2 separate regions of the Homo sapiens genome follow, and region 2 is linked to region 1. The links come from fine-mapping of genetic effects on gene expression. Tissue or cell type: minor salivary gland. Region 1 holds a variant in brackets; the other region holds the start of a gene. All regions are shown on one strand. Distances are between the middles of the regions.

What was found. PIP is the estimated chance that this variant, and not a neighbour inherited with it, causes the effect.
Region 2: CLU starts here. The variant in region 1 is fine-mapped to the expression of CLU in minor salivary gland (GTEx, PIP 0.98).

The regions. Positions count from the first base shown.
Region 1 is chr8:27,881,970-27,890,238 of GRCh38, reverse strand. All of the region lies in intron 7 of SCARA5 (scavenger receptor class A member 5), which reads left to right. It overlaps MIR4287 (microRNA 4287), which reads left to right and starts at 4,123; the gene lies at 4,123-4,200. The variant A/G (reference allele first, on the strand shown) is at 4,221.
Region 2 is chr8:27,610,730-27,618,882 of GRCh38, reverse strand. CLU (clusterin) reads left to right here and starts at 4,183. Exons shown (of 9, transcript NM_001831.4): 1 at 4,183-4,228. MIR6843 (microRNA 6843) reads left to right here and starts at 8,132; the gene lies at 8,132-8,153. RefSeq lists enhancers at 1,548-2,304, 2,595-3,095, 4,052-4,551, 7,734-8,153 and silencers at 3,940-4,029, 5,585-5,770.

The DNA of each region.
Region 1 (8,269 bases):
TCCCAGTAATGGCTGGTGACTTCTCTGTCAACTTCAGTTTCCTCATTTCTAACTGAGGGTTTTGGAGCCCCTGAGTTCTCTGCCAGCTTTGACATTCTGTGGTCTTTCTTATCTATTTTAAACTCTTAGTTCATTTGAGTGAGTCCAGGGCAAAGACAATACTTATTTATCCTTGCATCCTTAGTGCCTAGCACAATCCTGGAATGTGGTAGTAATTCCATACCTGCAAATTGATGGATAAATAAATATGCAATTGAAAAAATAAACACAGACATTGATAAAATATACATAAAGAATTAATACAGATAATGCATTTTTAGTGCTGCATATCTGTGCACGGGAAGTAGAATCACCCCGGACTTCAACAAATATTATCACTTTCCTCAAAAGCCAAGGCTGGTTTATCCTTCCCCTGCGTGCAATCGTTGACATGTTCATTTTCAAATGCAAACTCAGCAATGGCTGTGCTTCACAAAGGCAACCCTGTCTTCTTGGTTCTCCCATAAGACTCAGGAGAAACCAAGCTGTTTCTATGAATTTTAGTTAGAAGCATTGCAGTTCCAGGGTTAAAGTAATTGTTTTTCATGTAACTGCTCCATCAAAAGGCATCTTGCATCAAAGTCGTGATGCAAATTGGTGGACCATGCTCAGGGATCTTCTGAAGAAAGGATTCTGGGAAAGAAAGGAGGGTGTAGATGGAGAACTGGCCCGAGGGCTAAGTCTCAAGTTCAGGCCCCAGCTCTTCTGCTAGCTACGGGATGACTTGGGTAAGGCACGTCACCTCTCTGGGCCTCTGCTCCCACACGTGTCATGCAAAGAGTGTGGACTGTGTCATCTTCAAGTCTCTACCAGCTGGCAAATGCTATGCTTCACCATCATTTGTGATTATTGGAAAAGCCCAAAGATGATGTCATAATTACCGAAAAATCACTCCAAGCACTAAGTAATGGGACATCTGTTGCCGACAACTAAGCTAATGGAAGTTGTTCCTAGTGATATCCTGAGAAAATGCTAAGATTCCTTGTCCAGACCCATGCCTTGATCTTCTCCATGACCTGGCCTCATCTGTGCCTCAGCTGTACCCTCTTTACTGGGGAACAAGCTCAAGCTTTGAGAGATTTGGGGCCTGTAGAAGGAGGGTGGCTGAGGACCATGGGGTTGGTCCCGGTGGGGCCTGGGTGAAGGGCAGGCTCAGTACAACAGGTTGAGGAATGGGGAGGCAGGTGCTGTGGTCTGGGGCTGCAGTGAGGCAGAGAGCTCCAAGCCGAGGCTGGAATTGACACTCCAGAAAAGTTGTGGGGTGAAACAATGAGCCCCTTGATCTGGGAGACAGCAAGGAGGCTACCCAGCCAGGAGCCAGTCTCCTGCCCTGTGTTCCCTCAAACCACTTTCCTCTCCTAGGGTTACACAGTGAAACCAGGCAGGGATGCTCTGGTCTGGGCTTTGAGGTGACAGCACTTTTCTCTTTCTGCTTCTCTGTATCAAAGGGAAGAACCTTGGTCACAGGGTGTTGATGGGGCTTGTAACCAAACCGAAGTGGGATCTTCTTGCCTGGCATGGTAAAGCCAAACATCCATACTGAAGTTGTGCAGTGGGAGGAAGCATGGTGTTTATTTGCAAGGCACCAAGCAAAGAAAATCTGGTAGCTCACACTTAAGACTCAACCTCCTGGATGGCTTACAAGCAAGGCTGTTTAAAGGCAATGGTAAATTTCAGGAGAGCAGAAGTTACAGGCAAATTTCTAAATCAAGACATGGATGTTATACATTGGTTTGGCCTAAAAAGGTGGGAAATCTGGAAGCAAGGGCTTACAGGTCATACATGGCTTCAAAGACTTTCTGATTTGCAATTGGTTAAGGAAGGGAAACTTTGTCTAAAAACTTGGGTTCAGCAGAAAGGAATATTAAGGTCTGGCCTGTGGATGTGACTTCTTCCAGGTCCTCAGAGCTAGCTAGGTGCCTGGAATTTTCCTTTATTCTGTGGCACTGGAGAATAAAGAATAAACACAATCATTAGCTGGGCATGGCAGCATGCACCCTGTAGTCCCAGCTACTTGGGAGGCTGAGGCGGGAGAGAATGGCTTGAGCCTGGGGGACAGAGGTTGTAGTGAGCCGAGATCATGCCACTGCACTCCAGCCTGGGTGACAGAGCCAGACCTTGTCTCAAAAAAAAAAGTCCGTCAATCAGAGTTCAGGCCTCAGTTTCCCCTCATTTGAGGTCTATATGCCAGCAAATCCATTTGGTTCTGGGTTTCTGAAAAACATCCAGCTGGGTTTCTGAAAAACACCTCAGGGACATATGTTAAGATGTTCTCTTTAGTTTCTATAGAGAGTCATCAGAGGTTGACTCTAACTTCTTTGACTATTGCTTTAAGCTACTATTTCTTTCTTTCTTACCAAGTTGCTCATTTACTTCTTGGGGCTAGCCTAGAATTTCCCTTGAAGATACTCAAGATTTTCTTTTATTTCCATGTTTGGGGGCCTAGCAGCCCCTAAGTCCCTGCTCCATCTCGGGCTTGTGGTCCCCAGTTCTGGGGAAGCAGGGAAAAGATGAACAGAGATGAGCCCTGTGGATATCTGGGTGTCTCTGCTATGGGGGGCAGGGGTGGGCATTACAAGAAAAAGCTCTGCCAAAGCCTTGTGGGATGGGGATTGGAATAAGCTGTCAAGAACAGCCTCTCCTTGTTTTTAGTAAGGAATAGCTCTTGGTGTTTCCCTTCAGCTTGGGTTTTCCAGCCAAGTGATGCTATGTGCCGGTGCCATTCCTGCACAGAGCTGGTAGGGACCAGCCTTGTAGCCAGTACCATCCTCTTAACTTGCAAACCATGAAGGCATGGACAGGTAGACCCCAGTCTGCAGGTTAGGGATCCAGAACAAGAGGAAAAGTGTGATAGTCTCTGCACCTAACGCCCTCACCTGAGGGGTGCAAATCAGATACCCACACGGGAGTGGTATGGGGCAGGGTTTTCTTCCGGGTTGCTGATCCTCATTTGCTCAGGAAGGGTTTTCCAGGGCTCAATGTGGTATGATGCCAAGGAGGAGGTGAAGGTGCCTCGCAGTCATTGAAGGGCAGTTACTAGGGGACGTGGCTGCAACCTCGAAAGCCTGGGGTCCCATTGCTCATCACCAGCTCTCTTGCCCTTTGCCCTCTACCTGGAGCATCTGCTCTTGCTTTGGAGCCTAGGAGTCTCTGAATTTCACACAATCAAGAATCCCTGTCTCCCATTTTCCTCCACTGCCACGTGCAGAGAGAGGCATCTCCCTGACTCCAGTAGCCCCGTTCCCCCTGCAGGGACCCTCCTGGGGGGCATCTGAGGAAAAAACTCCCTGGACTGACAGGAAGAGTCTTGGGGAAGTCACGGACCAGGCTGAGGCTGCCTCTCAGTCACCACTTCTGATTAAGTCGGGGCTGACACATTGTGGGGCAAGAGCATTTCCCAGTGGTGGTTGGTGGCTTGGTGGGAAAGCTTTGACCTGGGGCAGAAACTGCCGGGAAAAAGCAGCATTTAAACCCTCTGCCCACAGAAACCCAAACCTCTTAAATGATGACGTCCTTCTCAGGCTAGAGGGTAGTCACTGTTGGAGGGCGTTGGTGATTCCCCAAGTGTGTTGCTGGAGGTGGCCTCATTGCTCAGCTCTGGGAAAGGCTCCTGCCTGCCTGCCTCCCCTATACCTCTTCAGGGGTAAAGGAGGCCAGAGACACAAGTTTCTGAATTTAGACTCTGAGTTCCTGAATCAGGGCAGCCTACATCATAAGCAAGTCAGACCTCAGCCTGTGGTTTCCCAGAGAGGTGGTAACAGAGCTGAGATTTTGTTGGGTGGGGAGAAAAGGATGCAAAATCCACAGCTTAGGGCCATGCTCTGTGAAGTGGAGCTACAACAAAATGTGGCCTCTGATTTGGGTGAGTCCAGGGGAGAAGGTGTGGCTTTCAGATTTGTGTTGACCCTGCTGGGGCAGGCAGCATCTGTTGACCCTGTGGGCAGGCGGCCCTCCACCATGGGGGGAAGCCCTGAGTCTAGGGGATCTGGGGACAGGTGGTGAGGAACAGGCCTCCATGCTTAATGAACCGACACTGGGGTCTGGGTGGAGTGGTGCCTTGTGCAGCCTCGCCCAGGTGCTCTCTAGTTCTTTTTCTCCCTTGAGGGCACTTTTCAGTTCCTGAGATCAATGTGGTCCCTACTGGGGAGACCATAGGAGCCCTGCAGGCCATGACTTTGCTC[A/G]ATGCATGGTAAGCATGGGCCATGGGCCAGAGACATCCTTGAAATTGATGCTTTGCATCCCGTGATTATGGTTATCATATGTTTTCAATTTTTTGAAGGTGTCTTGTTTCCAAATATTCTTCTATCACTTCTATATACATTGAAACCTCTTGGGAATTTCAGTATTTCAGCATCCAAATGACATTTTCCAGACTTCCCATTGCACCCACCATGATCATCTGACAGCCATGTCCCCATTCTCTCACTTGAGATGTACGGTCATTGTAACAGCCTGAGCTCTGGGTCCAGAATCCAGAGTCATCTCAAGTAGAGAAGGCAGCAAGTATGTGATTAGAAGTGTTGTGATGTAATAAAGAGGATGCTGGAGATTTGGGGCCCTGATGTTGGATTCTCCATTCAGGTTGCCACCAAAGCCCTGGACTCTGGGGAGCCATGCCCTCCAGCCAGCACCTGCCCATCTGGGTCCATATTAATGAGTCCCTCCATTCATGCATGCCTTCCCTTTGCACAGGCTGGGTATCTCAGTGCACCGGGCCCTGTACCAGGTCACGTGATCCTCAGAAGGCTCACAGTGTCCTAAGAGAGTAAATAGCAATAGCAATTATGACACAAAGCTATAAGCATGTACCTAGAAGGGGCCCTGTTGGGTGTGGGGACCAGGGAAGGAGAAGAGGCATCTAAGCTGAGATCTAAAAGACAAGGAAAGCTTAGGCCAGAGTACAGAAAGGAGTTTTCTGAGGTGGGGGAGTCCACGTCCTTCCTCAGCTCATTCAGGTCTCCACTCAAGGCCTTCCTTCTCTACTCGTCCAAAATGGCACCTGCTCTCACTCCCCACCCTCTTCCTTGTTCACTTGTCCAAGACAGTACCTGCCCTCTCATTCCCTCCCTTGTCCACCTGTCCAAGATGGTGCCTGCCCTCTCTCTCATTTCCTTCCTTGTCCACTCGGCCAAGATGGTGTCTGCCCTCTCTCTCATTTCCTTCCTTGTCCACCCGGCCAAGATGGTGCCTGCCCTGTCTCTCATTTCCTCCCTCCTCCACTTGTCCAAGATGGCGCCTGCCCTCACTCTCCACTCCTTTGTTCACTTGCCCACAATAGTGCCTGCCTCACTCTGTACTCCCTGTGCTTCTGTTCCCATCTATGCTCTTATCACCGCTTGGCTATAATTATGGTTTTGTTTTTGTTGACTAGCTGTATTGCTAGACTCTCCCTAGAATGTCAGCTCCATGAGGGCAGGGACTCTGTTTGTGGGTGTATCCACAGCTGTCTGATAGACTCTCAGTCACTTACTTGGCTAAACGAGTAGGTGCACAAAGTGAGTTCAGGCTGGCCAGAACAGAGAGGCTAAGTCAGGGAGTCTCCGACCGTCTACCTTGGCTGCCTAGTCACACCCAGTCACACTCTTCCTGTTGTTTTGACCCCACACCTGACTTCTGCCTGGCCTGCTCTGTGACTCACAGCACCCTCCTGCCACTTCTTGCCCTACTTGCTGACCCCACACTGTGGCTTCTGTTGCAGGCCTCCTGGTGCAGCCAGAGGTGAGGCAGGTCTGTGAGAAACCAGGGCTGACAGCCTGGCCTCAGCCAACCCAGGGCCAAGGCCCCGCGCAGCGGCCGGGTCCCTCTTGGTGCTGCTGGCTGCAGGTTAGCCTGTCCTTACTGCTCCCGGGGAGTTTCTTGGTGTCAGACCCAGCCTCTGAATTCCAGCTCTTCTCCATGTTTTTCTTCTCCAGGATCTCTCTGTTGTCTTGCATAGCCTCAGCCTGTTTGGGGACAGCCTGAATGAGTTTGTATTTGCAGTCTGTGTGGGGAGAACGGTCACCTGGCCAGGGATGAAGGATCCGCAGCAAATACATCCAATATCGAGAGGAGGCATCCCTGGTGCTCTCGCTGTAGTCTTTAGCATCATTCCTGGGGTTGGGGTCGCTTCCTGGTGGCTTCCTCGGTTCCTCTGCAGAATTTTCTGGGGTTTTCTTGGCCCAGGCATGTGGCCAGTTCTGAGTTCTCTCCTTTCTCATGGGGCACAGATGTCAATTCTGCCATCTCCTTCGGGACCTATGAAAGTCTTTGCCAAGTCACAGTCATTAAAAGGAGGCTCCTTCCAGCCCACTTGGCCAAATACAAGATAAAGGAAAAACAAAAGTCCAGGAGTGCCGCGCTTATTAGTAGCAGGGCTTGAGTAGGTTTGTTATTTTCTCTGGCAGTTCACATGGGCATTTTCCTGCATTGTGTCACCCACTTGTCACTGGGTTCCAGTACAATGTCCACCCCTACCCCACATGACACCAGTGGATTCTGGCTTTAAAAAGAGATGACCCTGATTTCTTCTCTGGCCTTGGATTACTGAGGGTTGGAGCTAGAAGGAACCTTGCTGATTGACCCTCTAATCTAAATGCCAGTCCACAGCCCACAAACCAATTGTTCTGAATTATTTGGGACACTTGGAAAAATAGAGATCCCTCACTCTTGCCACCAAGATTCTCTTTCAGTAGGTCTGGATTGGCCGTGGAATCTGGTGTTCCTAATGATTTTGATAAGACCCACTGACCACTCCAGTATCTTATCAAGTGAGGATGCTCAGGTCCCAGCAGGGGAAATAGCCCCCAAGAGTAGTGGGGCGGGCAGGATGGTGAAAAGGATGTGGGAAGACACATAAGGAAACGCAAGCTGTGATCCCAGCTCTGGCACTGACCATGTGTTTCACCCTGAGACTATGACTTCCCAGCCAAACCCTGGCTTTGTGATGATCCAAAGGCTTCTTTCAGTTGCTCTGGTGTTCTTTGGGTCCCCAACATTTCCCCTTGGAGAACCAATGCATTGTAATGCTCAGGAATGGCTCTCTACTACATTCTGCAAACATTGATTTTTCATTTCCTCCAGCCAGGCTGTGTGCCAAGCACTGAGTTTAGAGATCAATGTGACAGGGGCTCAGCCCTCAGAGAAGGGGGAACAGACCCACATTGCTGATGTTTCCATGGGCCAGGATTGTGCCCCAGAGCCCTTTTAGCTTTGTTGCATTTTGTTTGCATGACAGTCCTGCAGTGTAGATGTTGTTCCCATGTCGCAGTTGGGGAAATGCCTTTAGAGAGGTTGTGAGGCTACCTTAAGGTCATTCAGGTCGAAAGGGCCTATTATGTGCCAGGTGCTATTCTGAGTTCTTCACATCTATTACCATGTTTCATTGATTCTGTGACACACATTTATATGTCTGTGAAATCAGGAAGCACCTGGCACTTGATATAATTTGCCACCTACCCAGCAGAGATTTTTCCTTCTTAGTGGCATATAAAACAGGCGCCCATTACAACAGGTGGCATCTCAGATTTGATGAACCAATGTGTCTCACAGTTGCAGATAGTAAGTGGCAGAACCAGAATTCCCAACTGGCTCTCTCTGGCTTAAAGCACTTTCACACTCACAGCCTAGTGGGAAAGTGAACATGAATGACCAAATCAGGGCTGAGACACTTCCCGGGACACAGCCATGCTACCTGCCCACAAAGTCTTAACCATCCTTGGCTTCCTATTTCTCCTACACCCTCCTCCCTAGCAGGCAAGGCTGCTGGTCACCGGGTCTCAAACAGTGGAGAGAAATCTGGTAATCACACTCCTTGATATTTACCCAAATGAGCTGAAACTGACATCCACATGAAAACCTGCACATGGATATTTATAGCAGCTTTATTCATCCAGGCAAAAACTTTGAAGCAACCAAGATGTTTTTCAGTAGGTGAATGGATGAATAAACTATGGTGCACATAGAAAATGGAATACCATTCAGTCCTAAAAAGAAAGGAGCTATGAAGCCATGAAAAGACATGAAGCAACCTTACATGAAGGTTCACTTACTTATTACTAAGTGAAAGATGCCAATCTGAAAAGGCTGCATACTGTATGATTCCAACTATGACATCCTGGAAAAGGCAAAACTACGGAGAAAGTGAAAAGATCAGTGGTTGCCAGGGGTAGGGAGGAGGGAGAGATGAATAGTCTCACTGAATAAGTGGAGCACAGAAGATTTTTAGGGCAGTGAAAAGATTCTGTATGATATC
Region 2 (8,153 bases), 270 kb after region 1:
TATTTTTAGTAGAGACAGGGTTTCACCATGTTGGCCAGGATGGTCTCTTGACCTAGTGATCTCCCCACCTCGGCCTCCTGAAGTGTTGGGATTATAGGCGTGAGCCACTGCACCCAGCCTTTCACTAAGTTAAAAAAAATTAAAACTGACACGAGAATGGTACATATTTGTGGGGTACAATGTGATGTTTTGATACGTGCACACATTGTGTAAGGATCAAATTAGGGTAATTACCAAATCCATCTCAAACATTTCTTTGTGGTGAGAACATTGTAAGTTCTCTCTTCTACCTATGTTGAAATATACATTATTCAAAAAATAAGAGGTGCTGGTGAGGTTGTGGATAAAAGGGAAGGCTTATATACACTGTTGGTGGGAGTGTAAATTAGTTCAACCATTTTGGAAAGCAGTGTGATGATTCCTGAAAGAGCTAAAAACAGAATTAACATTTCACCCAGCAATCTCATTACTGGGTATATATAGGAATATAAATTGCTCTGCCATAACGACACATGCACTCATATGTTCATTGCAGCACTATTCTCAATAGCAGAGGCATGGAATCAACCTAAATGCCCATCAGTGGCAGACTGGATAAGGAAAATATGGTATATATACACCATGGAATACTACGGTATACACCATGGAATACTATGCAGCCATAAAAAAGAACGAGATCATGTCTTTTGCAGGAACATGGATGGAGCTGGAGGCTATTATTCTAAGTGAAGTAACACAGGAACAGAAAACAAAATTCTGCATGTTTTCACTTATAAGTGGGAGCTGAATGATGAGAACACATGGACACATAGAGGGGAGCAATAGATACTGGGACCTAAAAAAAAAGTTAAACTCTACTATGCGATAGAATACCAGAACTTATCCCTCCCATCTGACTTTAACTGTGTACTGGTTGACCAATCTCTCACCATCCTCCCTCCCTGCTCCCCTTGGAGAGTGATTCTCTTATTTTTTTCATTTTTATTTTTGAGAGACAGGGTCTCACTTTATTGCCCAGGCTGGAGTGCAGTGGTGCGATCGTAGCTCACTGCAGCCTTGACCTCCTGGGCTCAAGCGATACTCCATCTCAGCTTCCTGAGTAGCTGAGATTGCGGGCATGCACTACCATGCTTGGCTAATTTTTTAATTTTTGTAGAAACTGGGTCTTGCTATGTTGCCCTGGCTGGTCTTGAACTCCTGGACTCAAGTGATCCTCCCACCTCAGCCTCCCAAAGTGCTAGGATTACAGGTGTGAGTCACCACGCCCATCTGAGAGTGATTCTTAATCACAGGCCACAGGATACTGCTCTTGCCCATTCCTAGTTTGTTCCAGCTGTATCAGACTGCTGGCTGAGCTGTCCTGCTTGTGGTGCTGAGCCAGACAAAGGCTGGTTGGGGATGTGTAATAAGGACACTGCGTAGCGAAGCAGCCCCAGAGACATTCAGGCAGCCAGAGATGGTGCACAAAGCATAGATAAACAGATAAATGCAAGGGTCTTTACTCATCCCTCCCTGGCCCTCCCCATGGCTCTGACTCTCCAAGAAAATAAATCAAGCTAATGCCCCAAACCCAGCTGTGTAAGTCCATAATGGGAGACAGAGGATCAAACAGCAGCACCTGCCAAGAAGATGATGCATTCTCTATGAATCAGCCCAGTGACTCAGCATCTGATAAAGCTTATTTGGAGTGTTTAGGGCAAGGGAAGGGGTGGTCCTGTTCTGCTTTGTGTGCTCAGGCCCTCCGGCATTGGCTGGTCCAAGGCTCCCCACTGGCATTGGCTAGTCCAGGGCTGGGCCAAGGGTTTCAAGAGAGATGAGGTCCAGAATGTCAAAGGGCTGGGGAAAAGTCTGCAAACCACGGCAAGGCAAGGAGCTGCAAGCCTGGAGGTCACTGGGAAAAGCAGACTACGTTGCCTTCAAATATCAGAAGGGGCACTATGGGAGAGATAGGCTGGATTTTCTCTGTGTGGCTCCAGAGGGCAGAACTGGGCTCCGGATTGGCCCATACACGAGCCAGACTGTGACTCAACCAAAGAAGGCCCTAACTTTATCAACAGCTTTACTAGACAAATGGTTGCATGGCAGGTAGTGAGCTCCCTGTTATTGGTGGCATTCAAACATGGGCAGGATGACCACCGGGTGCAGATGCTGGGGATGGGGTAGGAATCAAGCAGTGTGTGAGTCCTGAACCAATCAATGTCTATGATCTGCTTAGAATATGAAACATCTGGTGATGCATTTATGGCGCTTTCAAAATTTACACTTTTCTTTCCTCAAAGTTTGACCTTCTGAACCTTGTTTGCTTAGTAGTGGGAATAATCAAGTAATTATTCCCAAGGGATCACAGTCATGACTGTGAATCTGTGAATCATGCTATTTTCTCCCAAGTCCTTTCTTCCTCTCTTCCCTTCCCCTAATTCAGCTGGCTAAGGCGGATCTCACTGACTGACCTCCAAAGTCTAATTTTTAAAAATATAACTAGATTTATGCCTTCTGTTCCGGATGCTGAGGGAGCTACAGAACAGAAAAGTTACAAGGAGCGAGCTCAAAAACAATTCTTCTAACCTCAGGTATTGATAAGGAGCAGGCACTGATAAGGAGCAGGCACTGTCCACAGAAAATGTAGCTGTTACTGATAATTAGACATTTTTTTTTTAAGAAAAATAAAGTGTAGCCTCTTCTGGGACATTTTTTTCTTCTTCTGGGTTAATGGCCTTCTAATACTTGGCTTGGCTCTAGGTTAGGTTGCAGGGAGCCGTGGAGATGATCCATTCCCGATTCCTCATCGTCCAGATGGAAGAAACTGAGGCCCAAGGGCAAAGTGATTAGTCCGAGGTCACCCAGTGTCTAGGGGCACACCTAGGACTGTAATCAGACTTTCATGGACCTGGTCTGGGTTCTCCCACTTAGTCATGGGCCTTGAAGATTCCCCGAGGCTGCCTCCTGAAAAGGACTGGGGTCCTAGTGGCCCCTGGACGTTGGGCAAGCAAGGGACTGGGCCTCCATGTTGTGCCTCCATAGTCCTGATCCTGAACTGGAAAACTCAGCCCCTGACCACGCAGCTCTCCTTTAAGCCCCTTTGTTTCACATGGTTTTCAAAGTCTGCCACCCACAGTGGGGCTGCCTGTACCCGCCCTGTCCACCCATTGCCCCAGCTGTCAGCCCCTTGACTTCTCTCCTGGGGCTTAAACATCCCTGGCTCCAAAATGGGCAGCTCACTTTCTTCCCCAAGAAGTAGCTGCACCTCCAGGGTTCCTAGATTTGCCCCTCCTTGCCAGGGGGAGGGGTGGCTGCGACAGGAGATTCTCCCTGCTCTCAGCAGAAGGAACTCCAGCAGTTGGAGACCAGCAAACCCCTCTGGACACAGATCTGATTTCCTAACTGGGAAGGCTCAGGGCAAAATAAAAATTCAGGTCCACTGGTTCAAAAACTATGAAGAATTTCAAGACCGTCACAGTAGCCCATTAAACCAAACGTGGATCTGCAAGGGTCCCACAGCCATGAAGCCCACCCTGCTTGGTTGGGTTCCAAAAAGATGGGGACAGTGATTGCTTAAGCTCTGTGGATCAAGGACCCCGGAGAGGCCTTCTGGCTCTCCACATATCTGCTCTGATCACTCCTAAACACAATTCTGTTTCCTCCAGGCCTGGCGGGTCAGTCCAGGGACCCCCATCAGTGTGATGTTTCCAGGAGTAGGCGTTTCAATACTTCCTGTGCTCTCTTCTCCAGCACAAGGCCCCTCTCCATCCCACCCTCATTATGTCTGACTCTTTACTATTTAAATGGGTCAAGAGAAGTGGCGCTTGTGTAATGTGAAGGTTAAGGTCAGTAGGGCCAGGGAACTGTGAGATTGTGTCTTGGACTGGGACAGACAGCCGGGCTAACCGCGTGAGAGGGGCTCCCAGATGGGCACGCGAGTTCAGGCTCTTCCCTACTGGAAGCGCCGAGCGGCCGCACCTCAGGGTCTCTCCTGGAGCCAGCACAGCTATTCGTGGTGATGATGCGCCCCCCGGCGCCCCCAGCCCGGTGCTGCACCGGCCCCCACCTCCCGGCTTCCAGAAAGCTCCCCTTGCTTTCCGCGGCATTCTTTGGGCGTGAGTCATGCAGGTTTGCAGCCAGCCCCAAAGGGGGTGTGTGCGCGAGCAGAGCGCTATAAATACGGCGCCTCCCAGTGCCCACAACGCGGCGTCGCCAGGAGGAGCGCGCGGGCACAGGGTGCCGCTGACCGGTGAGATGTCCCCGTCTTCCCTACCCTTGAGCAGAGCCACACCAGGACGGATGGGCGGGCAGGGGATGGCAGCCAGGCAGAGAGGGATGACACAGCTCGCAGTCACAACCCCTGCGCTTTCGACGGAGCCCAGGAAGCCAGGGAGGGGAGGTGGCCGGAGCCCCATCACCAGGCAGCTGAGCCAGGGGCCCCGGCGCAACCGCCGCCTGAGAGCACGAGCTCCAACCACAATTCTGTGGTGGGGGGGTAAATAGAACAGATATAATGATCATCCTTTCGCAAAGATGGGGAAACTGAGACCTGGAGACCTGCCGCGTTGCGGGAGACCCAGGCTAGCAGGTGACAGAGCTGGCCTGCACCGAGCTCCTTCCTGCAGCATATCCTCTGCGAAGATGCGGATCTCTCAGTTGTGGCTTTCGGCTTGCATGCATGAGTCATCTAGTTTTCTTCTAAATTCTCTAGCTCTCTGGACACTGTTGCCTGTAAGTATGAGGCTGCGGATTTCAGTATATGCTGCAACCACCGAAATCCGACTTTTTCTGCCTCCTAATGCATCTGAGGTGCATCAGAGAAAAGTCACACAAGATCCACCAGGCCTCAGACCTCTGATTCCACAGTCTCATTTTACAGATGATAATCTGAGGCCTGGAGAGGTTTAGGACTGGTGCCAACACTAAACAGCAAATAAGTATCAGAATTGGGATTCGAGCCAAAGCCTCTTGACCTTCCAGAATTTCTGGACCTAGTTAAAAAAAATATGATTTTTATTATTATTTTTTAAACGGAGAGGTTAGGAATTTAAAGGAAAGTACAGATACTATATAAAAAAAGATGCCCATGAAAATGTTAAGTTATAATAATAGTGGAGCATTGGGCACAACTGAAATGGCCAATCTTGTGAGAATGGTAAAATAAACTTAGGTCCGTGAGTAAGTGGAGTATTACATAGCCATAAAAGTATGCCCTTAAAGAATATTTGAAGATGGTGAATGTGAAGAATCTTGTATAAACTGCATGGAAGACAGAAGGAAATATACCACAGTGCTAACCTTTGCCTCTGGGTGATATGAATTACCGGTGATTATTTTTCTTATTTTCCTTTTGGTTTAGTTTTCTCCATTTGAAGAAGCAGATAGGAGCCGGGGCTTTGGGATTGAAACCCTCACCATCTGTGTGCCCTCTTCACTGTCTTCCCATCCTCCCCACGGCTCCCTGTTCACAGTCATTGATTTTCTTTCTTTCTTTTCTCTCTTTTTTTTTTTTTTTCCTGAGACCAAGTCTCACTCTGTTGCCCAGGCTGGAGTAGAGTAGCGCCATCTCGGCTCACTGCAACCTCCGCCATCCGGGTTCAAGCAGTTCTCATGCCTCAGCCTCTGAGTAGCTGGGACTACAGGCGCATGCTGCTACATCCGGCTAATTTTTGTATTTTTAGTAGAGACATGGTTTCACCACCTTGGCCAGGCTGGTCTCGAACTCCTGATCTCAAGTAATCCGCCTGTCTTGGCCTCCCAAAGTGCTGGGGTGACAGGTGTGAATCAATGCGCCCTGCCAGGTCATTGATTTTCTTAAGCCTCCAGCCCTGCCCTGCTTGGAAACGTTTTGGGAAGCTGCTCAGTTCAAAGTTCCCAGGAGGGTGTGCCTGGAGGGGAGTTGCTCCCAAAGTCTGCCTGCTCCCCCCGCCCCCCCTGCCCCCCACCCCCCGCCATCTTCTCCTCCTCCTCTTCCCCTGAGCAGCCCCTTTGTCCACAGAACCGGCCTTTTCTGGTAGAAGGAGCAAGGCCAAGTGGTTTAAGCCTTCTTAGGGAGAATGAGGCTGTGTGGTAGTGCTGGGGACTCGAGGGCCTTGGCCTTGGCATGGCTCTTCCACCCAGGGCAGCTGGCAGCCAGGCTCCCAGGAGGCAGAGGAGATGAGGGGGGAGGTGAGTCCGAGCAAAGGAAAGGAGGTCGGCTGTGCAGTCACGGTTCTAGAACATTCCTTGGATCAGCAGCATCCATATCACCTGCAGACTGGCTGGAAAAGCAGTCTCAGAACCAACATTATAACCAGCCCTGCAGTGATTCATAAGTACTTTAAAAAGTGGTCAATCATTTCAGCAAAGCAGAGCCACACAGTCCGGGGGACCACAGGTGGCCTCTGTGTGCTTGTCTCGGTTTTCCTGCCCCTCTCCAGACATGTTGATTAGACACTGCCAATGCCCAGCCTCAGACCTCAGTCTAATTTGGAAGTAGTCAGAATTTACTATGATTACATAAGACCCTCGTGTTTACAGAACACATTCCCCTCTCTGAGGTCTGGATTAGATCCATTTTACAGATGAAGAAACTGAGGCTCAGATATTTAAGTGACTTGGAATCAAGGAAAGAATACTGGACTAGGGGTCGGGAGGGCTGGGCTCTCATCCCAGGGTTACCATGAGCATGCTGTGGACTCTAGGGAGTCCCATGCCCTCTCTGGGCTTCAGCCTCACCGCTAGGGTAGAGAGGTTGGGTGAGAGAACGACCTCCTTCCCAGGTCTGAGCTGGATGGTTCACCAGGGACCCCAGGCTCCCTGGAGCAGACTCTGTGCCCGCTGCTGAGTCTGGAATTCCTTTCCTGTATCTTGCCTTTGGCTGCCCCATTCTTCATGGCCCAGCACCCTGTCTTCTGGTCAGAACCTAGTTCTGAATGGGTTTTTCCAGAAGTTGTTGCTTTCAGGGGCCCCTGGCAGAGAGGTGTTTCTGGCTGGCTTTGTCTCTCTGGCATGACAAAGGCTCTGTTCCTGCTGGAGGCATTTCAGGGCTCAGTGGGCAGCTGGGGCAGAGCCCGTGAGACCACAGCCTTCCTGGTGAGCCCGGTCTCCGCCCCCTACCCCATCTCTGGGGAAGGCGCTGACCCCATCTCTTCTCCCACGCTGCTCCCTGGCTCTTTGCGCCTGATTACTTCTCATGAGAGGCACTCCTTGTTAATGTGCTACTGAGTGTCCAGATGGGCCTGCTGGGCTGAGCGGGCTTTGGATGTGAACCATTTCAGGAAGGGGAACCCCATCGTCCTGTTGGTTCTGTGATGGCAAATGGGTGAGCTCAGATAAGCAGTTCTTGGGAGGGGCATGGTGGGGGTGGAGTGCAGGGGGAGGGGTTTCTGTTTTATGCAACAGCCTCAGCTTCTGGGAAAGGGTCCATTGTGTAAGACCGGGGCTATGGCCTGTGCCCCGTGGCTCAGGGCAGCCAGCCCAGTGGTGGCAGGAACACTGGCAGGGCAGCCTGCTGTCGGCTTAGAGGGGATGGGCAGTGTGGAGGGCCTGGCAGAGCAAGAGGACTCATCCTTCCAAAGGGACTTTCTCTGGGAAGCCTGCTCCTCGGGCCACTGCGAACCCTCTCTACTCTCCGAAGGGAATTGTCCTTCCTGGCTTCCACTACTTCCACCCCTGAATGCACAGGCAGCCCGGCCCAAGTCTCCCACTAGGGATGCAGATGGATTCGGTGTGAAGGGCTGGCTGCTGTTGCCTCCGGCTCTTGAAAGTCAAGTTCAGGTGGTGCTGAGACTCCCTGGGGGCTGCAGCGCTGTGGTGAATGGGGAGCGTCTGCTGGGGTGAAGGTTTAGGTGCACATTGCAGAGGACGTGGCTGGTCTCTGGGATGCAGTCCCTCTGTGGAGGTGGCATGGGGAGGGACGGATGCATGACCTAAGGGGGGTATTTTCAGTGTCTGACATGATCGATACCACTCTGGACAAGGAGGCCAGGATGCAGAAAGCCTGTGTGCCTCGCTGATTGTCGGGGAGGATGTGGCTTGGACAAGAGCCTGGTTCCTCCGATGCCAGGGTTCTTGTTTCTTCCACTCAACATTGCTGTCCTGCAGTCCCTCCCTCCCTGCACCTCCTGCCTTCGCTTTCATTCGAGGTGTCCATGGCAAGTCTGGTCATTTCCCCCCATTTCCTCAGGAATAAA